6 separate regions of the Homo sapiens genome follow, and all the other regions are reported to be linked to region 6. The links are microRNA targets in miRTarBase. Many come from high-throughput screens and were not tested one by one. Region 6 holds a microRNA gene; each other region holds the end of a gene's coding sequence.

Region 1 (5,247 bases), not on the chromosome of region 6:
GAGCCAAGATCACGCCACTGCACTCCAGCCTGGACAACAGAGCCAGACCCCATCCTGACCCCCCTACCCCCTCCCCAAAAAAAGAAAAAAAAGAGGGCAGGATGATGTATCTTCCCACTTCATATTTACTCCCAACATGCCCCTGAAAGTCATGTGACTATTCTATAATTATTTTAGAAACTTGTTTCCCTTTAGGTATCAGATTTAAACCAACCCCAGTGGCTGGACTCACTTAAATCCTTTTATTGTTTCTTCATAAGGCAACTGGTCTAAAATACATGCTTTTTCTTTTCTTTTATTCTCTCCTTGCCTCAAGAAACATTTCTATGTGGTGACTGCTGCCAACAGGTTAAGGAAATTTCCAACTTCTCCCTAATCTTCAACTCTGCTGCTCCAATGGGTCCAGAAATTACTGAGGCCAGTGGTGAAGTGAAGAGATGACTCAAACATTTAAATAATTTGGCTTTTTGGTATTATTGATTCCACTTATTTTGTAAAAATGGTTATGGCTGCTGCCTTCCTTGTGGATGAAAAGTGGCTGTAAAGAAGCTTCCTAAGAACGTTTTTTTCTGCCTTGTAAGATCACTACGTGTGAAATGCTCTGAGTACCTTTCAAATATACCTACTTTTGGTGGTAAGTGTAGGGATGCTTTAGGTAGGTACTTTGCATCTGTCGAATTTAAATTCTAAACTCACACTGATTAAGGAACTCAGTAGACTACTTTGCAGGGGCCATGTTATTCAGTGTTATCTCCTCCAGTACAAAGAATTCCTAGAATTTTGATTTGCTCAGGTGTGAGCTGACATTTTATTGTACTACCCCATTCTTGTGTTAAGCCATGTGGATTTAGGACAGTGATCTTCAAACTTGCTTTAACTTATGCTCCCTTTTGAGAATCAGCATCACTTGAAATGTCAAAATATGTCAACTCTCATAGCCAAATCAAAGAAGTGATCATTTTGACTGTGCTTTTTAAATCTCCACACACCTCCACCTCTCTCCTAATTCTGCCTGTCTTAACCCCTCTGTCTTAGTTATAAATTTCTGGTCTTGTAAGTCTGGAAGCTGATAGGCAATTTATGAAAGAGATAAGAATGTAATGAGGTTCCGCTTTCTGAGAAACACAGAAATGATACATCCTGAGACATAAAGGAAAGCTGCTCTTCTGCTGCCTCAGGCTGTAGCACTCTCAATGTTGTCACTCTACACATACACTTTCTATATACATGTACAGTTGACCCTTGAACAGGGTTTGAATTGCAGTCAACTTAAATGTGGATTTTCTTTCACCTTTGTCACCCCTGAGACAGCAACACCATGCTCTCCTCTTCATCCCACTCTGCAGCCTACTCAACAGGAAGATGATGAAGATGAACACCTTTATGATGATCCACTTTCACTTAATGAATAGTAAACATATGTTTTCCTCCTTATGATTTTAGTAACTTTTCTCTAGCTTACTTTATTGTAAGAATACAGTATATAAGCTGGGTGTGGTGGCTCATGCCCATAATCCCAGCACTTTGGGAGGCTGAGGCAGGCAGATCACTTGAGGTCAGGAGTTCAAGACCAGCCTGGCCAACACAGTGAAACCCCATCTCTACTAAAAATACAAAAATTAGTGGGGCGTGGTGGCGGATGCCTGTAATGTCAGCTACTCTGGAGGCTGAGGCAGGAGAACTGCTTGAACCTGGGAGGTGGAGTTTGCAGTGAGCCAAGATTGCACCACTGCACTCCAGCCTAGGCAACAGAGCAAGACTCCGTCTCAAAAAAAAAAAAAAAAAAGAATACAGTATATGTATATATACACACACACAAACACACACACACACGAACACATATGTGTGTATGGGTATTAACTGACTGTTTATATTATTGATAGGGCTTCCAGTCAACATTAGGCTATTAGTAGTTAAGTTTTTGGGGAGACAAAAGTTATACTCAGATTTTCTACTGCAAGGGGGTAGGCACTCCTAACCCTCACATTGTTCAAGGGTCCACTGTACATTTAAACACTTTTCTATATGCATTAGAGTAGCCCTGTCATCCCTTCACTGAAATCATACTGTTCTCAACATGGCAAGCAACTAACACTTTTTTTTTTTTTTGAGACAGGGTCTCACTCTGTTGCCCAGGCTGCAGTGCAGTGGTGTGATCTTGGCTCACTGTAGCCTCCGCCTCCTGGGCTCAGGCGATCATGAGTACCTGGGACCATAGGTGCCCGCTACTACACCCAGCTAATTTTTGTATTTTTAGTGGAGATAGGGTTTTGCCATGTTGCCCAACCTGGTCTTGAGCTCAAGCGATCCACCTGCCCCAGCCTCCCAAAGTGCTGGGATTATAGGTGTGAGCCACCACACCCAGCTTCAACTAACACATTTACGAACTTGTATACATGTATATTTAGATACTTTACCAACTTGTAAAATGGTTAAAGGAGTACTTTATTATGAAAAAATATACAATCTTTAAAATTTCCTTACTTCTACATGATTTTTGTGCTATTCCCATTTTTTTCCTCAGGTGAGCAGCTTTAGTTTTTTATTTTTTTTGAGAGAGTCTTCCTCTGTCACCCAGGCTGGAGTGCACTGGTGTGTTCTTGGCTCACTGCAACCTCTGCCTCCCGGGTTCAAGTGATCTTGTGCCTCAGCCTCCCAGGTAGCTGGGATTACAGGCGTGTGCTGCCACGCCCAGCTAATTTTTGTATTTTTGGTAGAGATGGGGTTTTGCCATGTTGGCCAGGCTGGTCTCGAACTCCTGACCTCAGATGATCCACCTGTCTTGGCCTCCCAAAGAGCTGGGAATATAGGCATGAGCCACTGTGCTTGGCCTCAGGTGAGCAGCTTTAGTCAATGTTGTGAATTTTAGATTTTAATTAGACATGCAACAGTTTCACTACCTTTCAGGATTTTTGTCCTGTAACAGAGGCTCTTGCTTTTTGACAGAGAGGTAGGCAGGTGGAGAGGTTATCCTGCTGCTGCAGTTCTCAAGTTGTTAAGTTTCCTCTGGAAGGCTAACCCTTGTTGGGAACTAACAGTTTCAATACCAGCAAGTCTAGGCCTGCTCCAAGTTGGTCAGCTGAAGAATGAACATCAGAAGACACAGCTGCTGAAAGTTGTCCTTTGATGAGACAGTGATAGTGATTTGGTAAAATGTCTTATTTTTTAAATGTCAGTTATCTTTCTTTAAAAGGTTTTTTGAGGGCAGCCTCCAGAAGGAGCTAGAGAGTATATTTTATAGTTCTATTGTGGTTCATACCCTGTTTTCGACTTAAGATTCTGGAGAATGCTATGAAACATCTCCCCAGAAAAAGACAGTTAATTACCATATCTAGAGCAGCACTGCCCAACAAAAATATAGTACAGGCTATACACATAATTAAAACATTTCTAGTAGCTTCTCTAACAAAACCCATTGAAAGCCAATTTTAATAATTTATATAACTTAGTGTATCAAAAATATTTCAATATGTAATCAACATAAAATTGAGATACTTTACCAGCTACTAGGGAGGCTGAGGCCAGAGAATCACTTGAACCCAGGGGGTGGAGGTTGCAGTGAGCCAAGATCACACCATTGAACTCCAGCCTGGGCAACAAGAGCAAAACTCCGTCTCAAAAAAAAAGAGATATTTTATATTCTTTTTCTCATACTAAGTCTCAAAAATCTGGTATATTTTACACTTAAAAACACATGTCAAGGCTAGGCATGGTGGCTCACATCTGTAATCCCAGCACTTTGGGAGGCCAAGGTGGGCAGATTGCTGGCCAACATGGTAAAACCCCATCTCTAAAAATATAAAAATTAGCTGGGCGTGGTGGCGCATACCTGTAATCCCAGCTACTTGGGAGGCTAAGGCACAAGAATCACTTAAACAGGAGGCAGGGGTTGCAGTGAGCTGAGATCACACCACTGCACTCCAGCCTGGGTGGCAGAGCAAAACTTTGTCCCCACCCCTGACAAAAAACAAACAAACAAACAAAACAAAAAAAAACCTGTCAATTCAGATGCTAGGTTTTCATCAGACGTACTTAATCTGTATTTAGATTTCTTAAAACTTACTGTGGAAAATGTATTTACATACTCAAGTTGTTTGAAACATAACTCACTGTTTTCCAATAACTGAAGTATCCACTTTTACATGTATTAAAATTAAATAAAATTAGAAATTCAGTTCTGCAGTTGCACTAGCCACATTTTAAGTGTTTAATAGCCACACGTGGTTAGTGGCATCTATATTGGACAGGGCAGATCTAGAGAGAATCCTGTATCTAACAATTTTAATTTTTTTCCCTTTATGCTGTTATTCCTTACCTAGAGAAACAATTTCCCTCCAAAGTTCCTTTGAGGGGTCTGTTTAGGCCAGGCCAACACAAGTGACCTATGTGGATTTTAGCATCCTTTTTTTGAAATTTGAGGTTTTATGAAGCTTGAGTTTTTCTGGATATTTTTAGTAATTTGCTGGTGTGTACTTAGCTCAAATACTTGATTGCAACTGTGTTGGGTCAACTATTTCTAATGGGACTTTTCCATTTGCATGTACAGTCACTGGAAACTGCTGGGCAGAGAAACTCTAAAAGGTAGTTGGGGCACACTTTTTCCACCTGTCAGATTGGTGAAGAATTGGTGAGGCTGTGGGGAAAATGGCATTCTCCCACTTTTGATGGATATGTATCCAAATAAAAGTCATTCCCATGCTTTCTTTCATCCAGAAATTTTATTTCTAGAAATTTATCCCTCCGTACTTGAACAATTGTATAGAGATTTATTCAAAATGATGTTTACTATAGCACTGTTGCTAATGGCCCAGTAAAAACAACCAACACATGCCTATTAGTTTGGTTTTAGTTAAATGAATTTTGCCACATCCATGTAGTGGAATACCTCACAGCTGTTATAGATAGATCTAGATATACTGAAAGCCATTTTTTCTTAAATTATAGAATGTATATATGGTATCATCCCATTTGTGAAGAGACATATGCTTATATGTGCATTAAAAAACCGTAGGATATGCAAGAAACTTAACAGTGGAGTGTGAAAAGTGGGTGATTGGGAGAGGGGGAATTCCACTTTTCATTTATCTTTCTGAACCTTTTGAATCTTTTTTTTTTTTTTTTTTACAATGAGCATGTATTCCTTTTTTTTTTTTTCTTTCCAAGATGGAGTCTCACTCTGTTGCCAGGCTGGAGTGCAGTGGCGCAATCTTGGCTTACTGCAACATCCACCTCCCGAGTTCAAGTGAT
Region 2 (5,247 bases), not on the chromosome of region 6:
ACTGAATAATGATTTGGCAGGGGAAGTTGCTATTCTGATAAAACAGTGTCTAGATTTTCTGACATGTAACAAACCTCCAAGAAACATGATAAAATATAAATGAAAGCTCAATCTATCCAAAAAGAATATTAGGCCAGGTATGGTGGCTCACACCTGTAATCCCAGCACTTGGGGAGGCCAAGGCAGGCTGATCACTTAAGATCAGGAGTTCAAGACCAGACTGTCCAACATGGTGATACTAAAAATACCAAAAAATTAGTTGGACATAGTGGCATGCACCTGTATTCCCAGCTACATGGGAAGCTGAGGCATGAGAATCGCTTGAACCCAGGAGGTGGAGGTTGTAGTGAGCCAAGATCGTGCCACTGCACCCGAGCCTGGGAAAGAGTGAAAGTGTGCATCAAAAAAAAAAAAAAAAGATAGCTGCTGTTTTGAGAAATTTATAATCTGTTCAACAAACCCAAGGCTAAGTTATGCTGTACTACATAGGAAGTGTAGGAAGTGTACTTATTTTATGTGTTCATTAGATTCACTGAAAAACTGATTGTGAATGCTTGTAACCCTTCCTTATATGATGTTGTATTTTATATTCAGGTTCATGTTAATCTGCTTCTTATAGAAGCTAGGATGCAAGCAGAACTCCTTTATGCTCTGAGAGCCATTACCCGCTATATGACCTGATGCCTTTCCTTCATTAAAGATGATTCTGGAATGATCAGCAGATATAGTCTACAAGGGGGAAGGTACTAAGCCCCAGGACCAATGGTAGACAAAATAATTCAGAAATCCATTGTGCCATGATTCCTTTAGTTTCTGCTATTTTTCTGTGGAAAACCACTGCTGGCACAAGCAGTGACTGTTTGGCAGCTTCAAGTTTAGAGCTGTGAAGACAGGCTGCCATTCACAGTATTTTGCTTTTTGACAGTACAAGATGCTGTGTAACTGTTTTAATACAGCAAATAGTAACTCTCCAAATCCTGTTGCTTTTATGTTAAATAAGATAACAAGAATTGGAGCATGCAAAGAATGGGACTTGGATAATGACTTAAGCTTTATATGTAAAGAATTTTAGAAGATCTTGGTGCTGCTATTCCTGCTGGAGGAATGAATAGATGGCTGTTTCAGTTAAGCTATTAGTAATAAAAGTGAACATTGCTACTATCTGAGCCTACATACATAACTTGTGTGATTTCAAATTAAACTTGCATTATGTGTTAATTTTCTTGCATCTAAAAAAGCATAGAATTCCTACTCACACAGCTCAGCAACAACCATTTTGATGGTAACAGTTAATTTCTTTCATTAGTTTTTTAAATTCAGGGTTCTGGATATTAAATTAAAATGGCATTCTTAAAGATTTTCTTCAAAAAGCAATCCTAAATGAAAGTGTGTAAATTATAAGAAGCTGGCGATCTTTTGATATGCTGTTTCACAGGATCCTGACACTGGAGGGCAGCTGTCTTGTGCATTACTTGTGTTTCCAGCACCAAAGTTGTGGGACATGTTGCTGTAGACTGCTGCGCAGTCCTGGGTGCATTCAGTCTCTCTGCCTCTGCCTGCCTCCTGGTCCCCACTTTAAAGGCTGTGCAGCTCCTTAAATAATAAAGCTGGAAAATATTTTTAGTCGGGTTATCAAATTTGATTTACAAAAACGCTAACTTTGTTTGAAATGCAAACAGGTTTGAAAATATGTATTAAGTACTTTGTATTCTGGAAGCGTGAATTGCTTTTGAAGTCTGTCAGTATTACTGGTATTTTTAAATAAAGAAGAATTTTTCTCCAATTTTATTTGCTGTCTCAATCTCTTAAAAAATCATGACTTCACTATTAGTAATAATTTTGAGTTTCTATCTACTTTCATAAGCCAAGTACATTCACACTTAAATGGCAAAACAACACTTGAAGCCATTTTGAAACATACAAAGAGGAGTGGACTTTCTTTAGAATCTTATCTGAGACCATTTTTATCTTGGAAATGACTGGTATGGCCCTATGCCTGCTCTCTTTTCAACTGTTTTAGAGTTCCAATAGAATTTTAAGAATTACTAAAAAGAAGGATTCATTAGGGAGAGACTACAGAACAAAAAATGACACTCATCAGACAAGTAGAAATAGCTCTAAGTTTAACTGAAGCTGTTGTGATGATAACTCTGTTAGTTACTCCTCAAAACATTTATTGAGCTCAATCTAGTGCCTGCCTACAAATGTATGGGGTAGTGTGGAAGTAGGGGTTGGGAAGGATCAATTTTGAACAGAGGTGGTACCTGTCCTCAAGGATATTTACTCTCATGAGAAGACAAGACTATAACCTTAGCTAGGAATAGAGTATTATTATCTTCAATATGTTTTATATTTAAAGAAACTTACTTATAAGTGCATTACTCATTGAATATGCATCATGCCTTTGTCCTCTTCTGCCTGCTGCTGAGTTCTCTCACCAGAGCAATACAATTGAACCCAAGAAGATAGTTAAAATTTTACTTATCCCATTTCTGCTCTTTGTTCCTCCTCTTGAAAATACAAAATTTCTAGTAGAGATTCTAATCAGCAGTAGAGTGATCACAAAACAAGATCAACTAGAATGCATTTAGTCCACTGGAACTTATAATCACTTAGAAATTGAAATCAAAATTTTAATGAGTTAAAAAATATGTTTATACCTAAAGTAATAAAAGTGCATGTGATACAAAGTTAATGTTTCAATGCCTTCCATTTAGCAGGTGCTTCCTGTTGGAGTGTTTTCTCAAAACTAAACACACAGGATTTCTAATGTTACTATATAATCTTTGAAACCAGTAGTTTCCAAAATAATTAGGGAAGGTACATTACACTGGGGATATCAAAACCTTCCCCAACCAGAGGAAAATTTTCTTCTAAAATAATCATGAGAAGATTTCTGGTTGAGGGTCCCAGGATTCAAGAGTTAAAATCTTGAGTTGTTTTGGCCGTATTTGGGAAAATTTTTTATTAGGCCAAACTTTATCATCTCTAAGAATGAGATTGATTTTGATACAGACCACCAGGAGATAAGTAGATAAGTAAAACTTGTTGGATAAGCACTTTTTATCAATATACTCTGAAATTTTATTAGCATATTCATATATGTGAATATCATACATGAATCAGAAATGTTACTAGCATATTTGTATATGTGAATATCATATATGAATCATCATACTAGTTTTTTGCTAACACTGGTAGATGGGAGTAATGTCAGCAAGATGATGGACTTGGGAACTCCACGTCCTCATTCTCCCAGAGACGCTGAGTTAACAATATATGGGCCAGAATATCTTTGTGAGAACTCTAGAAACCAATTGGGAAACTGCAGCATTTAGGCAAATGCAAAGCCAGGAAAAGGCCGCACCAAAAGGCTAGGAAAGTTTGTGGATTTTGCTCACCCTAGCTCTTCCCCAGCAGAGGATGGTGTGATCAAGAGGAAGCATAAATTCAGCAAAGTTGTAGGATACAAAGTCAGCACACAAAAATCAGTTGTATTTCTATACACTAACAATGAATGATCCAAAAAAATTTAACAATTCCATTTACAATAGGATCAAAAAGAATAAAATACTTAGGAATAAACCTAACCAAGGGGATATGTGATGGCTGAATGTTTGTGTCTTCCCCTACATTTGTATGTTGATGTATGTTGTATGCTGAAATGTAATCCTCAATGTGGTGATATTAAAAAAGTAGGCCTTTGGGAGGTGATAAGATCAAGAGGGCTCTGCTCTCATGAATGGGATTAGTGCCCTTTAATAGAGGTCTGGGGAGCTCCCCTTCTACCATGAAAGGACACAGCTAGAGTGTGCCATCTGTGAGGAAGAAAACACTCACTAGGCACTAAATCCTTGATATCGGACTTCCCAGCCTCCAAAACTGTGAGCAATAAATTTCTGTTATCTATAAATTACCCAGTCTAAGGTATTTTGTTACAGTAGCCTGAACAGACTAAGACAAAAGACTTACACATTGAAAACTAAAGCAGCAGTCCCCAACCTTTTTGGCACCAGGGACTGGTTTCATGGAAGACAGTTTTTCCATGGACCCAGGGTGGACGGTGCAGTGGGGGATGGTTTCAGGATAAAACTGTTCCACCTCAGATCATCAGGTATTAGATTCTTACAAGGAGTGCACAACCCACATCCCTCACATGCACAGTTCACAATAGGGTCAAGCTCCTATGAAAATCCAGTGCTGCAGCTGATCAGACAGGAGGCAGAGCTCAGGCAGTAATGCTTGCTTGCCCACAACTCACCTCCTGCTGTGCAGCCAGTTCCTAACAGGCCACAGACTAGGACTGGTCCATGGCCCATGGGTTGGGGACCCCTGCTGTAAAGCATTACTAAGAAATTAAAGACACAAATAAATGGAAAGACATCTCATGGTCACCCAGAGTGACCTGTAGATTCAATGCAATCTCTATCAAAATCCCAATGGCATTTTTCACGGAAGTAGAGAATTCCATGCCAAAATTCATCTAGAATCTTCAATGGACCCTGAATAGCCAAAACAATCTTGAAAAAGAACAAAGTTGGAGGTCTCACACTCCCTGATTTCAAAACATATTGCAAAGCAACAGTAATCAAAATAATGTGGAACTGGCACAAAGTCAAACATACAGGCCAATGGAATAGGGTCCAGAAATAAATTCTCACATATATGGCCAAATCATCTTTAGCAAAGGTACCAAGACCACTCAATAAGGACAGGACAGTCTCTTTAACAAATGGTGCTAGGAAAACTAGATATGCACATGCAAAAGAATGAAGTTGGACCCTTATATATTAAAAAACTCAAAGACCTAAATGTAAGACTGACAACTGTAAAACTAGATGAAAACACGGGGAAAGTTTCACAACATTGGATTTGGCAATGATTTCTTAGATATGACACAGAAATTATGGGCAACAAAAGAAAAAAAGACCATTGGAATTACATCAGACTTAAAAATGTCTGTGCATCAAAGGACATAATCAACAGAGTGAAAAGGCAACCTATGGGATAGGAGAAAATATTTACAAATCATATATTTGATAAGAGGTTAATATCCAGAATATATGAAGAATTCCTACAACTCAAAAAACCAAATAACTAAAAAATGGGGCTGGGAGTGGTGGCTCATGCCTGTAATCCCAGCAGTTTGGGAGGCCGAGGCAGGCAGATCATGAGGTCAGGAGATCGAGACCATCCTGGCCAACATAGGAAAACCCCCGTCTCTACACAAAAATTAGCTGGGCATGG
Region 3 (5,201 bases), not on the chromosome of region 6:
AGGGGAAGCGACTTGCCCAAAGCCCACGGTCAATTATGGGAGGAGTTTAGGAGCCAGGGGAAGTCCCTCTACTCCCTGTCCAACGCTCCTTCCTCTCCACAGTCCTGCCTGGATGGAGTTCATCATCTCCAGGAAAGACAGGGACCTCAATAGGGAAGGTGAGGAGGTCAGGGCCGGTATCCTGAGTTCAGCAGGATCTCAAGAGTCCAGGAGGAATACTCCTCCCGCCTGCGGCCCCTGCCCCTCTGAGGTCGCGCTTCCCTGTCTCCTTTGTACTCACCGATCCAGGGGCGAAGTCCCTGCCCATTCGATCTAGCCGCTGCTTGGGGCTTTCACCACACGTGCCCACCAGTGTGACAGAGATGTTGTCCAGTGTGCCGGCCCTCAGGTAGGGACCAGTGGTCACACACAGGCGGTACACTGCCATGATGGGAAGGAGGAAGGGATGCCCCGGCAACGCTGGCCGCAGCAGCAGCCGGCCTGGAGGAGAAGAGCGGCACGCCGGACAGGGCTGGGTTTCTGGGCGGAGGGCTAGGGGCTGCGGGGCTGGGTAGGGCTGAGGATGGGCCCAGCTCTCTCTGGGATGTTCCTGGGCTTTCTCTCTCCGAAGCTCCCTGCTGGCGGCTCGGGCTTCCTCTCTCCGCCCACAGTCTTGCACTCTAATACTTGTTTGCTTGCCTCTGACACAGCCGGTCCCTCTGGCTGGCTCACCCAGATGGATATCAGGAGCCTGGGTTCCACTGCGGAGGGAGGGATCAGATGCTGAGATGGAGAAAAGGAGGTAACGCCTGTATAATTGGGACACTGCCCTCCGCCTGGTCAGCGGCCCGGACTGATGCCCTGGAGTGCTTGTCCGCCCACTCCCCAATGTCCCCCAAGATCTGTTCCTCCCCATTCCCAGGCAGAGATGAGCACAGGGCACCTGCATTCCTACGTGTGAATCATCCGTGTGAATCACTAAACAGTGGAGAGTTGCACTTGGTCATAAATCACACGTGACTGCAGCCACACGCAGGTGAGTCGCACACGCATTCCAGCACATGTCAAATGGTCAGGAACAGCTCCCTGTCACCCCATACACCGATCCCCCCACGCATGGCCCTCTTTGTCCCCAGCCTTTGGCACGCCCGACCTCATTCTCTGCTCTGGAGTAGGGCAGGTCAGGAAAGCGAAATACAGCGCCGGCAAACAGGGTCTGAATGCCCCGCGTGGCATTCTTTCCGCTCCAGGACCGCCCTGGGCCTGCAGGATCCTGGGCGGGAGCCCAGGTGTCCGGGATCTGGGCCACTAGGGACTGGGGAGGAACCTCTCAGAGAAGCCCATAGCCCGCAGCGGCCCCGCGCGGCCGGTTCCGGCGCCGCACTGTTCCAGCCTCTACTATGGTACAGTCCCTGCGTCGCAGCCTCGGCGGGGGCTCTAAGAACGGGAGGCAGAAAAAGCTCAATCAGCAGCAGGCGAGCTTCACCCGCTGCTTCCAAATCTGTGCCAAAATATTCTATGCTGCACAGATAAAATCCTCTGTCGGTTCTACAAGCCTGGCTTTTCCTATAGAGAACCCTCTTATAAGCAAAAAGTAAAGCTCTCGTGAAGAGCCCGGATAGCTCAGTCGGTAGAGCATCAGACTTTTAATCTGAGGGTCCAGGGTTCAAGTCCCTGTTCGGGCGGCATGTCTTTGCTTTTGGGTACCGCACTTCGCATAAAATGGTAACAAAAATAGTTACTAGTTTTTAAAGCTAGGTGATACAGAAACTTGATTTCCACAAAATACAGCAAACGACGGTGGAGGGTAATAAACATACTTTAAAACAGTACAAACGCGAGCCGTATTATCGAATTTACATTTTCTGGTAGCCACATTACAAAGAATAAAAAGCAAGCGAAATTAATTTCACGGATCTATTTTACTTACCCTAATATACCAAAATCTTATTTTAACATATAATCAACATTCTAAAAATATTAATGAAATTTTAAGTCTTTTTGTTTGTACAAAGCCTTCCTTCAAAAGAAGATGTGTATTTAGAAGCTGGCAATACATCTGAATTCATATATTTCAAGTGCTCGATAACGGTGTCTACCATATCCAACAGCAGACTTTGTTTTGTTTTCGTTTTAAGTGACGGGTGTGGAAGACACGCAAAATAGAATGTCCAGTAATGTACACAATCTTGAAAGACACCACGAGGGAGGTTCCATGGTGTAATGGTTAGCACTCTGGACTCTGAATCCAGCGATCCGAGTTCAAATCTCGGTGGAACCTTGAAGCTTTTCTTTTAATATCAGCATGTTGAATATTGTTAATTGATTTTCACAGAGGGGATACTCCTATGACCCAAGATAATACGACAAAAAAAAAAAGTAAACTAGGACACTACCAATTATTTGTGCTTTTCCTACCGGATAATTGAGTCCTATAACACAGTGTTAAGAGAACGTACAATAAATTATTTAAATATGTTGGAAGTTGAGCTAACATTTGAAAACATGTTAAAATAGAGATGTTATGAAGAAACGAAATAATAGAGATGTTATGAAGAAACGAAATATTGCTTCAGCAGTTACCATCAGGTCTTAGCTTCTGGGATGGATGCAGGCCTATGATCTCTCTGGAAGACCAAACACGGAAGATGATGGTGAAACCATTACCAGGGGAATTCGTAAAATTACTTTCTGCATGTAAATAGGTGTAACCTCACAGAACTGTTAACAGAACTGTAGCAGGTGCGTAATCCACCAGAAAAACTCCAGCCTGGCAGCGGTGGGATTCGAACCCACGCCTCCGAAGAGACTGGAGCCTAAATCCAGCGCCTTAGACCGCTCGGCCACGCTACCTGCACGAAAACTTACTGTCCCCGTTGTCCTCCTAAGAGACTAGAAGTAAGGAATGGGGCAAATCTTAAGAGTGCCAAATTGATTCGTCTCCTTTTCCACATCTTTTAGACTGGAAATGAAGAACCATCGAGACTGTGGACCGCATAGCAGCAGATGGCAGAACAGATAAACGAGAAGAGACAAAAACACACAGAAATTTACAACAAAACTAGTTTATTTGGGTGGGACTATATCTGGGAGTGGGGAGCGCCTGAGCCGGAAACACCCCCCAAGCGGGCAGCCGGAGCTCTGCACTCGCTCGCTCAGCCATTTTCGGTTGCTCTCCCTCCCTGTTTTTTCGACCCATGTGCGCCCTCTCTCTCACCTGGCTAACATGCTTTGCGCCCGCTACCTCTACCTGGCTTGGCCTCTGAGATCCAAACCGCGCCCTCCTGGCATGTCCCGCCCAAGTCCCTTAGCCCCGCTCCCCAACCCTGCCCCATTCCCACTCTAGTACCCGTAAGCTACAAGACGCCGCCGTTCGTCGGGTGGCTCTGTGGCGCAATGGATAGCGCATTGGACTTCTAGTGACGAATAGAGCAATTCAAAGGTTGTGGGTTCGAATCCCACCAGAGTCGATTTTATTTCAATTTTTCCTTTTTATCCGTTTTTTTCTTAAAGGCCCCCATCCCTTCTCCCCCTACCCTATCTCTCTCTTTCCACCTGGTTTCAATTTCGATCTCAGTTCCCGCTCTGCTCTCTTCTTTACTTACCTGTCTGCCCCGGGGCTTGGGCCATGGAGAGCAGGACTGAGGGTGGGAGACAGAAGGGAAGGGAAAGTGGGCGTGGACGTCGAGATAAAGGCAGGCCCCTGGCTCGGGGACACACGGGGATTTAATAACCACTTTATTCCATGCACTAGGGACTCGGGAAGGGACTGGGACTGGGCTGAGGGGCAGAGAGAGTACAATCCTAGACGCAAGGGAGAAGTTGGGGCAGGGAAAAGGGACAGGAACCAGGGAAATATATATTTATATAGATACTCTAATATAGACCACATCTCACCCGCGCGCTGAGCCCGCGCGCCCCACTGCCCTCCCCAACACCTGCTCGCCCGGACGCCCGGGTCCCTCTGCTGCCCTCGGGCTGGAGTCTCTACCCCACCCCTAGACCCCGCCCCCACCACCCCCCAAGGCTCAGGGCCAAGGTCTCCAGAAAGCGGGCGGCGGGGGCAGCGGGGCCTTGGGCGCCCCGTCTTGTCTGTGAGGCGGCGGTGGCGGCGGCAGCAGTCCGGTGAGGGGCGCCGGCGCGCCAGAATCCCCGGCGCGCGGGGAGCAGAGGGATGGGGACCATGCGCAGCGCGGGCTAGGGTGGCCCTGGTGCACTGGGGGGCGCTGGTGCAGCGCAGGGCCAAGGGCCGGTGCGGCGGGGTCCAGGGATGGGCGCGGCGCTGGAGGCCTCGGATCTACCGGCTTGGGCCGGGGCGGTTTGGGGCGCAGATAGCCGTGCAGCGCGGAGAAGAGCTGGGCGCGGGCGGCCGGGCTGGCGTCGTGCGCGAAGGCCGCCAAGCGAAGCAGGCACTCGCGGAAACCGGACAAGTAGCAGCTGGCGAGCGCCTCGGCGTCCTGGACTGGGGACCGGGGAACCCCTGGAGCCGCGGCGGCTGGTGCGGCCGGCGGGAGCACAGGTGGGCAGGGCAGGGGCCCGGCAGGGGTGAGGGAAGGGGCGGGGCGCAGAGATACCAAGGCCGGACAGGCGCACAGAGACAGGAAGCCAGATGGACGGAAAGAGGGAGAAAATGAGGGAGACACAGAGACAGACACGCGCGGGTGTTATTAACCTCGCCTCGGAGCAGAACCGGCCACTCCCCAAGCCCACCATCCACCGCAGGGCCCGCCCACTCTGCCCCGGCCGGAGCCTCCTGGCGTCCCCCCTCCCTCCCTCCGCTGCCCCACCCCCGCGCTGTACCCGGGGGCTCCACCCGGCTTCGCTCCCTCAAGTAGCCCACGGCGAACTCCAATATCTCCGCTTTCTCCAGCTTCGGGTTCCGGAGGTTCTACAGACGGGAGGGGAGGGCGCAGAGACAGAAAGGGGTGGGGAGAAAGGGGGAAAGTGGCAGGGGGAAGAAGGGAGGGACGGATGCGGGAGCTGGTGGTGCCCCCGATCGCATTTGCGCACTGCCCACAGAACGCGCGACCAAATGCGGAGTGGAGATGACCAAGGAAAGTCCTGGCCCACCCTGAGACGAAACTGTCCAATCCTAGGGGTTGGAACCAATGCCCAACGCGTGAGGAGGAGATTTGAAACCGCAACCCAGGGAATGAAATTAACCACCCGACATAACAGAGGCTGGCTCATCAGAGGCTGGCTGTGGGGGAGGGGGAACCGGA
Region 4 (5,247 bases), not on the chromosome of region 6:
CAATCTAAGAATGGCTTATATGCTGCCTTAACTTGGGGTGAAGGTCAGAGTCAGGCAGATTTGCGTGCCAGCCCCCACTCTGCCACAAAGCAGGCCTTGGCAGGTTAGCTCAACATCCCACGTGCTAGTTCAGAGCCCCAGCCTCAGCCTTACGCAGTGGCAGGAGTCAGACGCGTCCCAGGACTGCTGACCTCCAGTCCCAGATGAGCAACACTGAGCTTGCCCATGTGTCATTTGGTTTTCAGGTTACACAAGGAGGATTCTTGCTTATGACCCTCAATCCAACAAATTTGTCAAATGTGCGGACATGAAAGACCGGAGGATGCACCATGGGGCCACAGTGATGGGAAACAAACTCTACGTGACGGGCGGGCGGCGGCTGACCACGGACTGCAACATTGAGGACTCCGCCTCCTTCGATTGCTACGACCCCGAGACGGACACCTGGACATCCCAGGGACAGCTGCCGCACAAGCTCTTTGACCATGCCTGCCTCACTCTCCAGTGCATACCCCGCACGTCTGGCCTCCCATGAGGTCGACAAGAAACCTTCTGCCCTAGTCAAAATGCCTTCTGTCGCCAGGGACACAAACCCAGCTCCAAAGGGCTTAACCCTTAAAGGCTGCAGGGAGAGCTCACAAGACTGAGGTACCAGAGTCGGGAGGCCTGGAACTAGGCATTGCATTGCCAGAACTCTCTCTCTCCTTCTCTGCCTCTCTCCTTATCTCTCTCCCCCACCTCCATCTGTCTCTGTCTTTCCCCCTTCTTTCTTTCTCTCCCCTATCTCTGTCTGTCTCTCTCTCTCTCTCTCTCTCTCTCTCTCTTTTTCTTTTTTTTGAGATGGAGTTTCACTCTGTAGCCCAGGCTGGAGTGCAGTGGTGCTATCTCAGCTCACTGAAACCCCCACCTCCCAGGTTCAAGCGATTCTCACGCCTCAGCCTCCTGAGTAGCTGGGATTATAGGCATGTGCCACCAAGTCCAGCTAATTTTTGCGTTTTAGTAAAGACAGGGTTTCACTATGTTGGCCAGGCTGGTCACGAACTCCTGGTCTCAAGTGATCCACCGGCCTCAGCCTCCCAAATGCTGAGATTACAGGCGTGAGCCACCACGCCTGGCCTGTCTCCTTTCTGTCTCAGTTTCTGTCTCTCTTCTCTCTCTCTGTCTGTCTCCCCCTCTCTGCTTCTCTCTCTTCTCTGTCTCTCTGCCTCTCTCTGCCCCTCTCTCTCTCTCTCTCTCTCAGTCTCCCCTCTGTCTTCCTCTCTCTCATCCCTAGGTTTTCCTCTCTCTCTAGCAATCTTCTTCATTTACCCACACAGTGTGTGGACAATGACAAATGATAAACCCAGACTCATTTTCCAGCTTTATATCTTCAGGAGAGAACTTTGCCATTATCCATATATTAAACCTAAAAAACAATGCTTATGGGCCTCTTTTGAATTCCATGTCTACCTCTTGAGCCAATCACTGTTGCCAGGACTGGCTAGTCCTGGACCACATCCCCACAGACAGAGGTGGGGTTACCTGTTGTCACTGACAGCCCATCCAAACTGCATATAATGGGTTAGAAGCATTTCCCCAAAGAGAGAAATCCAGACAAAAACCACATCTGCCCAGGACACCACTGAAATCTGGAACAAGAGGGCTGAGAGAACCCAGAGGATTCCTGGAACTGCTTGGTCCAGGTGGCAGCGTGAGAAATTGGCCCTGACCTTGTTTTTCTGCATTCTATGGATGTAGTACATTGAAATTCCAGAGATATATGCACAATTCAGTATCTAATGTTTGTAAAATTATCCTGCATTGCCAGAATAAAGTTTGTTTCTGGTGCCAAATGATGTTTTTCTGCAGCCTCTGGGGAGCTATAAACCTGCATAATTAATCAGGATGTTCATTTTGGTCAGTGTTATGAGGATTGCTCTTCTGGGGAAAGTCAACAAATTCCTTCAGTGCTTACAGCAGTCATTGCCCTCAGATGCCAGGGCTGACTATCTCTATAGCTCCCGTTATCTCAAGGTGCCTCCCACACTGGCTCAGTCCCAAACACAGGAATAAGCTGAAGTGGAGAACAGCAGTTCTCAGCGCTGCCTGCACAACACAGTCATCTGGGAAGATGTTTGAAAATGGGGCCAGCTCCATTGGAGAAAAATGAATAGGGATGCTTTGAGGCTGGGGGCAGAACACTGTATTTTTTGAAAAGCTTCCCAGATTTTTGAAATGTACAGTCAGGGTCGAGAACCACCGCTCTGGTCAGCTGTGAGCACGGAAGACCTGCATGGCTGGTTTCATTCCCCTCCTGTCATGGTCAGCCCGTCTGAGCCTAACAATGTAAGCTAAGTCCTCTCCCCACCAACGGAAGCATCTGCCATCAGTCTTGCTGCCCTGAGCCTGGCACCAGAGTTCACTCCAGCTGTAGCCTTCCTCCCCATCTGGCTCTCCAGGTTCATGTTCTAGACTTTTCCTTCTTTCTAAGTTGTCTTTTTTGTACTTCAGATTCTCCTCCTGGGGTCTGAAGCTCTGCTCTGCTCCCCAGATCTCTTGGCTGTGGTTCAGAGACCCTGCTTGGATTGCCAGCCCTGCTCCTCAGCCTGGACACTGTCCCCTTAGCTTCTGGCTGGCATCTTGTTCCAACCTAGTCTCTTTAAACCCCCTCTATTCAGGCTCTCAGTCCCACCTCTATTAATTCACAGGACAGTTGATTGTTTAAAAGGGCATAGAACACTTCCCCTCTCTTTTGCTCCCTCTCATGTGAAATGCTGGCTCTCTAATATGGTTTGGCTGTGTCCCTACCCAAATCTCATCTTGAATTGTAGCTCCCATAATATGAGAGGACCCTGGTGGGAGATAATTGAATCATGGGGGTGGTTTCCCCCATACTGTTCTCATGATAGTGAATACGTCTCACGAGAGCTGATGGTTTTATAAAGGGTTTCCCTTTTCATTTGGCTCTCATTCTCTCTTGTCTGCCACCATGTAAGACGTGGCTTTCACCTTCCACCCTGATTGTGAGGCCTCCCCAGCCACATGGAACTGTGAGTCCACTAAACGTTTTTTTCTTTATAAATTACCCAGTCTTAGGTATGTCTTTATCAGCAGCATGAAAACGGACTAATACACTCTCCTTCCCCCTCCACCATGAATGGAAGTAGCCCGAAGCCCTCACCAAAAGCAGATGCTGGTGCCATGTTTCTTGGACAGCCTGTATAACCATGAACCAAATAAACCTGTTTTCTTTATTAATTCCCCAGCCTCAGGTATTCCTTCATAGCAGCCGAAAATGGACTAACACATCCCCTCTTTCTTTTTCACACTTGCTGTGCCCTCCCCTTGAAAACATTTGCCCCACACATCATACCCACATGGTTCACTCCCTCAACGCCCCCAGGTCTCTGCTCAAAGATGCCTTCCTTCCCTGACCACCCACCCTTCACATAACCCATCAACAGGTCCTGTCTGCAACACCCCTGGGAAATAGATCACAAACACCTCCAGCTTCTCCATCTTCACTGGTGCTTCCCCAACTCAAGCCATCCTCATCTGATCAGCCTCCAAAATGTGCCCCCTGCTTCCACTGCTACCCCATGAGCCTTCCTTGAGCAACAGTCAGAGTGATCTTTTTTTTTTTTTTTTTTTGAGATGGAGTCTTGCTCTGTGGCCCAAGCTGGACTGCAGTGGTGCAGTCTCGGCTCATTGCAAGCTCCGCCTCCTGGGTTCATGCCATTCTCCTGCCTCAGCCTCCCAAGTAGCTGGTACTACAGGCGCCTGCCACCACGCCCGGCTAATTTTTTGTATTTTTAGTAGAGACGAGGTTTCACCGTGTTAGCCAGGATGGTCTCGATCTCCTGACCTCGTGATCCGCCCGCCTCGGCCTCCCAAAGTGCTGGGATTACAGGCGTGAGCCACCACGCCCCGCCAGAGTGATCTTTTTAAAACACAGACCTGATCATGTTACGCCCGTGCTTAAAATGATTCCATGGCTTCTCAGAGACCTTTGCATAAAGCCCCCAATCCTTTATGTAGCTTCTAGTTCATTCCCTAATCCAGCACCCACCTATCTCTCTGGCCTCATCTTTTGCCACCCTCACTCCTTGAAGTTGTCTCAGGCCCAGCCATCCTTCTTTACTTTACACCCTCCTCTCTTTCCTCAGGGCCTTGGCATGTGCAGTTGCCACTACCTGATACACACCTCTCTTACCTCTTCACCCTACATAATTTCGACTTACACCTTGCACACCAGATTAAGAGTCACAGCATCAGGGGTGTCTTCCATGCTTCCCCCACTCCAGTTTGGGTCAGCTTTCCTATTAAATACCCCTATCATTCCCCCTTTTGTTTTTCTTGTTGTTGTTGGGTTTTTTTTTGTTTTTGTTTCTTGTTTTTTGAGATGGGGTTTCACTCTTGTTGCTCAGGTTGGAGTGCAATGGTGCAATCTCGGCTCACTGCAACCTCCACCTCCTGGGTTCAAGCAATTCTCCTGCCTTAGCCTCCCAAGTAGCTGAGATTGCAAGCATGCGCCACCATGCCCGACTAATTTTGTATTTTTAGTAGAGACAGGGTTTCACCATGTTGGTCAGGCTGGTCTCAAACTCTTGATCTCAGGTGATCCACCTGCCTCGGCCTCCCAAAGTGCTTGGATTACAGGCATGAGCCATCGCGCCCGGCCCCCTATTCTTCTCCTTTGAGACTCTTATCCTATTCGTAATTATTTGATCTCTGTTTTCCCCTCTAGACTTCTTATTCTGTCCTGTTCATCTCCGCATTCCCAGGGCTGCCCTCAGTGTCTGCCACATACATTATAGATCTTCCATAAACACATGATAAATGAATTAATGAATTAGTAAGTGAATTAATGAATTAGTCAATGAATTAATGAATTAGTAAATGAATTAATGAATTAGTAAATGAATGAAGAGGCTGAATCTACATCGTCTCTGAGATCTCCTTCACAAATTCAGAGGTAAACATGTTGAGGCACTAGTTCCCGTGCCCCAGATCCTCTGCTCGGAGTCATTCTGTCCTTCCCTCTTTCTTTCCCCTGACCCACCCTGAACTGAGCCTGGCAAGTCTCGGTGGGGTACAAAATCACATGGCCCACCTGGGTCAAGCCTGGTGGGCAAAGGGCTTTATCCAGGGCACCCTATCTGCCTGGAATTAGAAATGGGAGTCTTGTCTATAAATGCCTTCTTTGGCCTCCAAAAATCCTTCTGTTGGAGGCTTGCTAATCCCTTGACTATCTTTTCCTTTAGTCTC
Region 5 (5,247 bases), not on the chromosome of region 6:
TGCACTCCAGCCTGGGTGACAGAGCGAGACTCCATCTCAAAAAAATAAATAAATAAATAACTTTCCACGGTATGAGTCTATGTTCTATAGAAATATTGCATTTGCACAGAGGTAAATGTAAAGGGATGTTTGCAGCACCATTGTTTATAATAGAGAAAAGTTGTCAGCAACCTCAGTATATGCCAATTATGGTAAACACATAATTGAATACTGTGCAACCATTACATAGATTGTAGATGATCTGTATATACCAGCGTCAAAAGGTGTTTGTGATAAACAGAGTTAAAAAAAAGCAAGTTATGGAATAGTGTGTACCATCTGTGTTGGTTAGAAAAGCAGAAAAGTATAAGCTCATAGAAAAATATATGGCCAACGTGTTGGCTTATGCCCGTAATCCCAGCACTTTTGGAGGCCAAGGCAAGCAGATCACCTGAGCCCTGGTGTTCGAGACCAGCCTGGGCAACGTGGCGAAACCCCATCTCCACCAAAAAATATACGTATTAATATATAAAGCTAGCCAGGTGTGGTGGTGCATGCCTGTAGTCCCAGCTACTCGGGAGGCTGAGATGGGAGAGTTACTTGAGCCCGTGAAACAGAGGTTGCAGTGACCCAAGGTGGAGCCATTGCACTCCAGCCTGGGCGACAGAGCGAGACTGTGTCTCAAAACAAAACAAAAAAATACTTGGTAGGTTAAGAACAAAGTGTTTATAGGTTTTCTGTGTGTGCTGAAGGAAAGAATAAGGTGAAAGACTTTTACTGTAAGTCTTAGTGGTTTGGCTGATTTTTTTATCTACCTAATACTTGCTTTTTTTTCTTTCCATAGCATTATAGCCTTCAGAAAGGCCAACAAAGTGGGTATTTTCATCAAAGTTACACCACAGCGTGAGGAGGGTGAAGTGACCGTGTGCTTCAAGATGAAGCATGATTTTAAAAACCTGGCAGCCCCCATTCGCCCCATTGAAGAAAGTGACCAGGGAACAGAAGTCATCTGGCTCACCCAGCATGTGGAACTTAGCTTGGGCCCACTTCTTCCTTAAAAGGTTCCACTGGAGGGCAGATCCCAAAGGACAGTATCACCGTAAACCTGCGTTAAAATGTGGAAGCTGCTGCTTCATTAGGCCTTGTTTATAACGATGTACCCATGCACTACGGAATTCTATTGCTAAGAAAGTGGGAGCATAGGCAAGGCATTGGGAACACAGGGTAGCTGCTGTTGCTCTTGCTCTCACCCCTGTTGACACCAGTAAGTCTGTGTCTCCCTCACTGAACCCTGCACGTTGAGTAACAGCAGCATAATTCCATCCTAGGAAAGGGGATGGGTGTTCCTTGGAATGGCATTGTATTTACCACCTGAGAAACTCTGTACTGTCTCTTGATCTGATCTCACTAAGGATCACAATGTCACAGATGAAACTTAAATGATAACCCAAAGGTAGACCTGCTGTTAATGATCCAGCATTGGTCACAATGTACCAACTGCTTTCTGCATTCCGTTAAATATCATCTAACAGTCTAAAACATATCCCTTCATTGCCATAATGGCTGCCATTTTGCCATAGATTTCCATATAACTGAAAAACTGAATTGTCACTTTATCTTTAGTATCATGATGATTGGAAAAACCTGTGAAGTTGTTAAGGCACTCTCATTTGCCCTCTTTTTCTAAGTGAATACAGGACACGTATTAGTTGTTCTTAATTTTTTTCCCAGTAAAATATGGATCTTTTAAGAAGAATTTGAGAAGCAAACAATTACATGTCATGTCAAGGGGGTAGCAGATTCCATTCGTTTTCAATATTGCCACAATACCCAGGGATTAATGCTGCCACAGGGGGGCAATCTTTATTTGTCTTACTTCCTACCCCTTCCCTGTTCTGCCTCTTTAACTCAGTTAAGTTGTTCTGTTTGGGACCTGGAAAAGAACCCAAAGAAAACCTGAGTGGACAGGTTCATTTCTGGAATGCAGAAAACATTTTAAAGGCTAGATTTTTAGAATATTCTCAACTAGCATTCTTTCCATTGATTTGAAGGGGAAATTAACTATTATAATCTCTTGAATCCAAAACTGGATATTAAGAACTTTCCCCCTTACTAAGTTTAAGACTTTTGTCATGTGGTGAGTCAAATAAGACCATTTTGATTGTAAACCATAAAATAGTTCAGCAAGTAGCCCACAGTTCTGGCCTAACAGCAGACTTGCTGTTTTCACTTGGTATCCTGGAGTTGGGTTGCTAACCTTAATTTCTATGATGTTTTCTAAAATGAAACTTGATAAAGTAGACCACCAGCTGCACCGTGTTTTCTGTAAAAGTATTGTTAGTAAGTGGCCAAGAGACTTGAGGAAAATACAGATTTTTTGTTTACCTTGGTCTTGTTTTAAGTCTTAAAAAATTAAAGATAACATTATAATGTAGAATACAGATGGGACATAGTCCTTGTAAGCTTCCCTTGAAAATGTTTTAAATATTTAGGAAGCTTTTAAAAGACACTAAATTGTACTCTAAAAGACACTAAATTGTACTAATTGTACAAAGGTCAAGCCAATTTTATGAAACAGTCCTACAGAGTAATATATGTGATGCAGTGTAAGAAGGAAAATACTCATCTCTAACATTATGGTAATAACATTTAGCCTCTTAGGAGTTGGAGCAGGGGGATGGGTAATTACAGATTTGCAGACTATAGAAAGAGTTTCATTTTTTTGTGACCCCACAGAGTCTCAAATTTTTATTTCACTACCTGCTAGAGCCTACTGTGAAATCACTGCTCCATATTTGCCAGTGGAGGAAATGGGCATAGAGTAGAGAATAGCTTCATATGTTTACACGTTTGCATAGACTACACACATGTCATGCGTTTATGGCAGGTAGCTGGTATTTATTCCCCAAAGTAATAATGTTGAAGTATGGGTCTCATCATTCCCATACACAGAAACACAAAACACTTTGATCATAAACTTTTTTCTTCAGAAGCCAAACTAACTTGCAGAATAATAGAGCCACTGGTTTAATGTTTCCTCAAGATAGGTTTTAGTGTAAGCTAGTATTCTGTGTGTTCGTAGAAATGATTCAATACCTGCAGCTGGTGAATTAGGAATTGTATTTGTTGCCTTTTTTATATTAGATGAGGTGCAAAAATTTTAATGCTAGTCAGTATGCACCACCACAGGAAAGTTAGATCCCATTAGCACTTGAAACTACAGCTTTGGAAACTTAGGCTAAGTTAATTTGGATTTGTTACTTGATTCACCTACTGACCTTTTCTTTTGTTTGAAGTGCTTATCAGCATAATGAGCTAAGTGTCATGCATATTTGTGAAGAAACACCCTTTTTGGTCCCTTTTGGGACAGAGAGGTACTCCTTGATCTTTATGAATGACAGGTTACTGTTTTGCCTTATTGCTTAACTTAATGTAGTGAAATAAAGCAGACAAAGCTTGAGCGTGTCTTTTGTTTGCTCTCATGTAGATACTAAGTAGCATGGCTCAGAGCCAAAAGACAAGCGTGAAGTTAAGAGAGTTGGCTAAGAGAGTTGGTGGGGCATGCTCCCTTCCATTCCTTAAATGAAGTAATCTAAAATCTCTTAGCAGGTTAGTTCACCATAATATATAAGTAGATGTTGCTTTGAGCTTCTTATATACATATTCACAGAACCATTATATAAATGTTGTTAGACCTCTACCAGTTTTTATCCTGGGTCATTGCTTCTAAAGATATCCTTTACAATATACACAGTGGTCTGACTCCACCAGTGGCCACTCATCACCTTCATCTGTACCTTCATAACTGTTCCTTCCCTCCTCTTACTTAGATGAATTATTCATACTCTTCCTGTTGGAACCCAGCCCCACCTCTTAACACTGAAGCTCATCCTCTTACCTATTCACAGATAGCATCGGCAGCTCCCTCCTTCCCTTTTCCATTAGCATGTGATTTCTCTCATCTTAAAAAAGAAATTGGCCTCACTCTCCTCTTCAGCTGCCACTCCATTTCTCCACTCCCTGTACAGCAAAACTCCTCTAACTCTGACTGGGCATGATCGCTCACACCTGTAATCCCAGCGCTTTAGGAGGCCGAGGTGAGAGGATGATTTGAGGCCAGGAGTTTGAGACAAGACTGGAAAACCTAACAAGACCTTGTCTCTGTTTAAGTAAAAGTTTTTTAAAAAACAAAAATGGCCAGGTGCGGTGGCTCACACCTGTAATCCCAGCACTTTGGGAGGCTGAGGCGGGCAGATCACGAGGTCAGGAGATCGAGACCATCCTGGCTAACAAGGTGAAATCCCGTCTCTACTAAAAATAATAAAAAAAATTAGCCGGGCCTGGTGGCAGGTGCCTGTAGTCCCAGCTACTCTCGAGGCTGAGGCAGGAGAATGGCGTGAACCTGGGAGGCGGAGCTTGCAGTGAGCCAAGATCACGCCACGGCACTCCAGCCTGGGCAGCAGAGCGAGACTCCGTCTCAAGGGAAAAAAAAAAAAAAAAACCCTAATTCAACCTTCCAGTTCCTCCATTCTCACCTGAACCCATTCCAGTTAGACTCTCACCGCCACCACTTGGTCGAAACTGCTCTTGTCAAGGTCACCAGCAATCACCACACTTAAATACAGGGTCAGTTCTCAGTCCTTAACTATGCAATTTTTCAGTAGATCTGACAGTTTATCTCTCCCTTCTTGAAAGGCTTTGCTTGGTTTCCAGAACACAACACTCCTGGTTTTGAGGCAGAGCAGGGACCCCCTTTTAGGAGGCTTGTGGGCCCCTCCATGCATGGAAATAAAGGGAAATCTTGAGTTCCTTCAAGGGAATTCTAGGCACCTAGCTAGCCCAAAGAAGTTAATGAGCAACCTGATAAGCAAGAAGTAGCTGAACACAATAGCCAAGGAAGTCAGAGTGAGATGTTTTGTTCCCTATAGAAACTAAGGGTAACATACATGTCCCCAACTTTTCAGAAACCTGAACTCTCACCAGCTTTAAACCTCAGATAAGGGGAAACTGAGAACTGAACTCTGACCACTGTTCATTGTTCTAAGTTGCTTCCTGAGGGGCCTGGAGGAAGTCATGTCCACCGGCCAGAGCTAACATTCTTTTCTGTGGATCCCAAGTTTAGACAGCTTCACCGCCTTAATCATAAATCAAAAAATCTTTGAAACCACCTATGACCTTTGAGTCCACCCCCATCCCAGCTTTGAGATGTCCCACCTTTTTAGGTCAAACCAATGTATAGCCTCTATGTATTGATTTATGACTTTGCCT
Region 6 (5,247 bases):
TAAGCAAATCTCAAACTTGAGAACTTGACCTCTTAGAGCTCAGTACATTATGACTGCTTGTTTTTCATAATTCTAATCAAAAACCTGGATAGGTGCATCGCTGCAGTCTAGCATGGAGTGAAAATTTTAAAATTCAGATTTATCTCCACCTATTTCAACCATGTAGTATACTTTATGAACATAGTGATTTGATGAGGTAAAAAAATTTATAAAGAAAGACCCAGTTTGTTATTTCCAACAGTTTATTTTGTTTCTCTAAAGATCAGACACTGGGATAAGGATAGAAAATGCTTATTAACCAAAGAGGTAGTAACATGAATAATGTTAGAGTGTTTATAAAAAAAGTATCTTAAAATAGAAAACTCATATAAACTTTTAAGTGCCTTACAGCATTCACGTAGTCTAAATTCTCATTCTAAAATATGTTGCTCTGTATTTAAGAAATATTTGTATTTCTGTGACTTTGACCATTTTCTTTATTGTGACCTCATAAATTGCATGAGTATTCTCTAAATAATTTATTTCAGCATTGATAATAATAAGTAGCAGAAAGGTTGTCAAAGAGCTATAAAGATGTTAAGGAATGGCTTCTCTTAATAGAAGTACAAGGAATGGGTATAGTTTTCATCATCTTAAATAACTTTTTGAGAAATGTGGAAACAGTTCCCTAGAAATAGCATCTATACTCACCCCAAAGGTACCAGACTTCATTATAATGACAATGTTATTAGTAGATTTTTCAGGATTATAATGGGTTAGGTGTTAATATGACTAATACTCTTTTTTTTTTCTCCAGAAATTCCTTTCCTGCTTCAAGATTTTAGCATTAATATGTAAATTCAGTAACAGGGCTATAACATTCAATTTGTTCTCTCTGTTCCATTCCTTACCCTCAATAATGACAATAATGCTGATAAGAATGATAAAATACTATGAGATAGGTACTACTAGTATCCACATTTTGAAATGAGAAAACTAAGTCCCAGAGAGATTAAATATAATGTGAGGCACACATAGAATACATTGCTTATTCTATGTGTGATAGTTACATACAGGTCTCTGCTTGTAGAACTCTAAACTTTTATGTACTGCTACACAATTGCTTCAACATTTCCTCCTCTGTTTCTTGGTTTGCACCATTTATTGCTATTTAGTGTTTCTCCTTGTCATCTTTGTATATCTGCATCTGTGATATGCATTTGCCACAAATAACCTACGTTTTATTATTAGGTAAAATGTTAATGCAAACACTATAAAGGAAATGATTGTATCACATTTATTTAGCCACCTACTCTACCCTTTAGAAAACTTTTAATAAATGTTCTCTGAGTTGCTGATTATTTATTTATTTACAAATACATTTCATATACTAGTCAGTTGATTTTGTTAGCTGCTGAAGATTTTCTAGGTGTGGAAAAAAGAAAAACAGGATGGTGCCTCTGCCTAGAGGATGCTTATTCCTTGGATAAAGTGGTGATCTACTCTTATTTGATTAGGCTATTTCAAGGATTCTTGACTGTCAATTGGAATTTTAATTGGAGACTTTAACAGCAAATAACCTTTATAGCATATGATTTACATAAATAGATATTCAACAATTTTAATATAGCCACATAATGAGGAGGTTATTCAGTGGGGTCTACTTCCTTCCCCAGCCCTAGTAGAGATTAAAGAGAGAATGTCCCATTGTCCTCCAAACTCCTCTGCCATACAAGTAACTGACTCTGGGTCCATTTGGAGAAACTTCTACACTCAACCACATAAACCTCATAATTCAGAGTAGTTGAGGCTGTATTCATTGTGGCATTCTTCTTCCACCTCATTAAATACCAGGCAGGCCCCTTTGATCAGGTCTCCATGGCAGTGCTGCCCCTGGTACACAAGTGTGTACCCATTTAGGAAAAGACAGTAACTGCTTACCTGCACAACCTAATTATATGGAGATATGGTCTCAGTCCTTTAACAGTGAGACAGAAACAGAAATCCAAGCTCCAGGGACAGGAAAGTCTACTGAGATCAAAACCCCTTCTTTTGCCCCACAAAAACAAAACAAAACAAAACAAAACAAAACAAAAAACCAAGAAAACCTGTAGTTAATTTCTGCCAATTCCTAGATAGGACTTAAAAATTAAACCTCTTCAATAAAGTATTTACATACTGCCTCTTACAAGGGCATATGGTAGTAAAATAAATGGATCTATATGCTATTCTGTACCAAGCATGAGTGCATGAAATTTTACCAGCTGGGAACCTTTATGGACAGAGACCCTGTGTGTGAACAGGCATAATTGCCTATACACATGCTTTTTATGGGGAGAAGAGATAGTGGAATATTTATTTTTTTCATTTGAACAAACTAACATAGGCAAAATTTTCTAGAGCTTAAAATTTCAGAAAAACTGCAAAGACTAACACCTGGTCTTGGAAAAATATTTACCTTGATGATTACCACCTTCCTGGTCAAGAACTGAGCCTGTCTTCTTAGAACGTTAGAGCTAGAGTCTGAGATCTAATGGAGACATTAAAGCTGATAAAAATAAGTTTCAATGTTAGGAGCCATTAAATGGGCAAATTAACCATTTGTTTTTATATGAGAAAAATAATTTATGTGTTGGCTGGTAGAAAAGATTCCAGTTATTAATAATACATTTAAAATTTACAGTAATTGCTGAAACAAAGGTTTTTTAATAGAAAAAGACAACTTCAATAACATTATATTTATGTATAAACACTTCCATTCTTTGTTTCCAGTTATTATATCATCATCACACATTTATATCCAGAATGAAAAGTAAAATAGCCCAAATAATAATTTTTAAAATTAAAAAAAAAACTGAAGCAAAAAACATGTTAAATGGTGTGACATGGAAATACTGCTATGTCTTAGCTGCAGTAGGGCTAGAATTCTGATCTCGTAGTTCCCTTTGCTAGATTCTTCCCATTGCACCAGGAAGTACAAATTTAAATACCACTGCCTCTCATTTGGCATTGGAGACTGATACTTTGACTCAGGCATTATTGAAAGTGAACTGGACTAATGTTTGATAGAATTGCCCTAAAGGCAAGAAATTATTTATCACTCTATCTTTAAAACAAGAACAGTGACCTGCTTAAGGGATGCTCAATCAATATTTATTGAATACATAAATGAAGGTGACCAGTGTCTGGGATGCCCACAAAACTGTTTGAAAAGAATCACAAGCACCAGGCAAGCTGCTGAAGATACTCCAGGGGAACAGATTACTGTATTCACTTGAAATGGAGGAAATATGAACAGCTGCTTATCTGCAAATGGTTCCTGCTTAGAATAAGTTTGTGTGCATTTGCAGGAACTTGTGAGTCTCCTATTGAAAATGAACAGGAGACTGATGAGTTCCCGGGAACACCCACAAATCTTCCTACTCATTTCTACTGCTTTGCAATGGACAACATTTTATGGCTGGTACCTTCCACTGTTGTCAGTTCCTCCAAGTTCTGAGTATAAGTTTAAGTTCTAAACAAGGAAGTAATGTTGAAAATGCAAAATAATTCAGTTAGGCAAGGGTTAACTTGTCCACTCAACATGGATGTCAGTAGGTTTACTTGAGGTGTTGAATCCCACCAAGGGAAGCATCTCTAATAGTCCTGATCTTATCTTTGTAAACTCAGCAGACATTCTACAAGACATAAATTATTCAATGAAATGAATGGTGCCAGTGCTTATGTGAAAGATAATTTATAGACCTTGCAGGAAAGGAAAAAATTAAAAATCATATGTATTCCCTTAAACTTTTTTTCTTGGTTGTATCTAATCAGGAGTTTAAGTATATAAATGTTGAGATTGTTATCTAATTTTTTTCTGAGAAAATATTTTCTCTGTTCATGTTCATGTGTAACATCAACTTATGTAATTAGTCTTTTTATATTTCAGGATTGTTCAATGGACCACATTTAGCATCAGCATTGATAGCATGAATCTGTTGTTAAATCTCATAAAGCAGCCTTTCATGAAACCACATAAGGTTGATCCTTTATAATCTGTTTATGGTCTTCTTTTAACAAGAGTGACAAATTCAATTACTGAAGGAGGAATATAGTAAATGTATGAAGTTGATGATGTGTATCCTACATTAGTGAGTAGCAGAGACTCTACTCATAGTCATACCTAAATACTTTCAAATTCACTTAGAAAAATGAATCATATCTAAAGGTTATATTTGTGTTAAATATTCTATAATAATTAGTGATAAAGTTCCTCTCAGTGTTTTTCTACATTCCTCAAAATGTTATCTTCAAAACATTCAATGAAGTTCTTACATGTAAGCTGGTAATACAAATCTTACCTTCATTTTGACCTGTCTTTTTTCTAAAACAATGTGCAGCCTTTAAATTTTTTGCAAATTAAATCCAGTTGGAGCTTATTTCTGTAGGATTTCTTCAATTGATTTTAATTATCCTGGCATAAATATGGAAAAATATTAAATCGATTGAAAGCATGTTTTCAGACAGAAGTATCGTCAATCACTGGTCAGTAGACCTTTCTGTTTCTCTTTCACAATCTAGGATTACAGTTCTCAGCCTTTTTGTTTGTCTTTTTGCCCCACATCTAAACCCATGATCCTTGTGTCTGTGTGATCACACTGCTGGATGTGGCTGAGATAAAACAATGTGTTGGCTGTATTTTATTTCCAGTAGCTTGTTGTGATGTCTCCTCTGAAAAGCTTATCTTACTAGAATGCAATAAGGTGGCATATATGTCACCCTGAACATGCCCTTCTTTTTTTTTAATAAAAGCAAATCATCCACTAACATTACTCTTTAATATTAGTAACAAATTACTGGCTTCTGCAACATGTCATCAGGTACAATCAGGAGAGAGTTGAGAATCACTTTTCTGGAATGTATAGTTCATCCTAATGCCAACAGTTTTTTTAAGACCAGGGGCAAGTTAGAACAATAGGCCTCATTCAAGGAGCTCATCTGACCCTTGACTTTCAATAACTAGAGAAAAAAAAATCCTTTCAATTTTTTTCCCACATGTAGATCAATAACATGGAACTTATATGTCAGCATCAACTCAGCAGACATCTCTATTGAGCATCTATTTTCAACTGTTCTGCCAGAGTCTGGGGTTAGAAACTGACAAGCGTGTTTGTATAGCTCTTTGTTCATCATTATTATAATGGACACAGCATTATATGTACAAGGTCCTGCCTCACTCGTTGGAAATCATACATTAGGCTTTCTTGTTCATACCCTGCTCTGCAT

The links. The annotated mature microRNA hsa-miR-873-3p reads GGAGACUGAUGAGUUCCCGGGA and lies in region 6 at 3,361-3,382, shown strand. An mRNA with a match to its seed (bases 2 to 7 or 8) in the 3' UTR can be bound and repressed. Matches are read on the target gene's strand: a 7mer-m8 pairs with bases 2 to 8, a 7mer-A1 pairs with bases 2 to 7 and ends in A, and an 8mer does both.
Region 1: miRTarBase lists MYLK3 as a target of hsa-miR-873-3p. Seed matches in the 3' UTR shown: 7mer-A1 at 3,657-3,663 and 7mer-A1 at 5,168-5,174.
Region 2: miRTarBase lists SESN1 as a target of hsa-miR-873-3p. Seed matches in the 3' UTR shown: 7mer-m8 at 1,539-1,545.
Region 3: miRTarBase lists HES7 as a target of hsa-miR-873-3p. The part of its 3' UTR that is shown has no 7-base or 8-base seed match.
Region 4: miRTarBase lists KLHL38 as a target of hsa-miR-873-3p. Seed matches in the 3' UTR shown: 7mer-m8 at 1,238-1,244.
Region 5: miRTarBase lists DCTN4 as a target of hsa-miR-873-3p. Seed matches in the 3' UTR shown: 7mer-A1 at 2,716-2,722.

What each region holds. Positions count from the first base shown.
Region 1 is chr16:46,702,833-46,708,079 of GRCh38, reverse strand. It overlaps MYLK3 (myosin light chain kinase 3), which reads left to right. Exons shown (of 13, transcript NM_182493.3): 13 at 317-5,247. The coding sequence ends at 376. Among named protein-coding and RNA genes, the nearest start is that of ORC6, 16 kb to the right of the region's middle.
Region 2 is chr6:108,982,978-108,988,224 of GRCh38, reverse strand. SESN1 (sestrin 1) reads left to right here. Exons shown (of 10, transcript NM_014454.3): 10 at 595-3,916. The coding sequence ends at 681. It also overlaps a transcript of ARMC2 not described here. Among named protein-coding and RNA genes, the nearest start is that of ARMC2-AS1, 61 kb to the right of the region's middle.
Region 3 is chr17:8,117,564-8,122,764 of GRCh38, forward strand. HES7 (hes family bHLH transcription factor 7) reads right to left here. Exons shown (of 4, transcript NM_001165967.2): 3 at 4,780-4,867; 4 at 3,029-4,474. The coding sequence ends at 4,008. ALOXE3 (arachidonate epidermal lipoxygenase 3) reads right to left here and starts at 951. Exons shown (of 16, transcript NM_021628.3): 1 at 923-951; 2 at 281-740. The coding sequence starts at 427. It overlaps TRK-TTT3-5 (tRNA-Lys (anticodon TTT) 3-5), which reads left to right and starts at 1,592; the gene lies at 1,592-1,664. TRQ-CTG1-5 (tRNA-Gln (anticodon CTG) 1-5) reads left to right here and starts at 2,189; the gene lies at 2,189-2,260. It also overlaps TRL-TAG1-1 and TRR-TCT2-1. RefSeq lists enhancers at 117-1,316, 1,038-1,117, 1,198-1,267, 1,418-1,517 and silencers at 2,038-2,087, 2,218-2,307, 2,678-2,887, 3,828-4,287, 4,508-4,617.
Region 4 is chr8:123,641,027-123,646,273 of GRCh38, reverse strand. It overlaps KLHL38 (kelch like family member 38), which reads left to right. Exons shown (of 4, transcript NM_001081675.3): 4 at 246-1,832. The coding sequence ends at 535. Among named protein-coding and RNA genes, the nearest start is that of KLHL38, 10 kb to the left of the region's middle.
Region 5 is chr5:150,706,939-150,712,185 of GRCh38, reverse strand. DCTN4 (dynactin subunit 4) reads left to right here. Exons shown (of 13, transcript NM_016221.4): 13 at 824-3,746. The coding sequence ends at 1,037. Among named protein-coding and RNA genes, the nearest start is that of RBM22, 8.5 kb to the right of the region's middle.
Region 6 is chr9:28,887,024-28,892,270 of GRCh38, reverse strand. MIR873 (microRNA 873) reads left to right here and starts at 3,316; the gene lies at 3,316-3,392. All of the region lies in intron 2 of LINGO2 (leucine rich repeat and Ig domain containing 2), which reads left to right.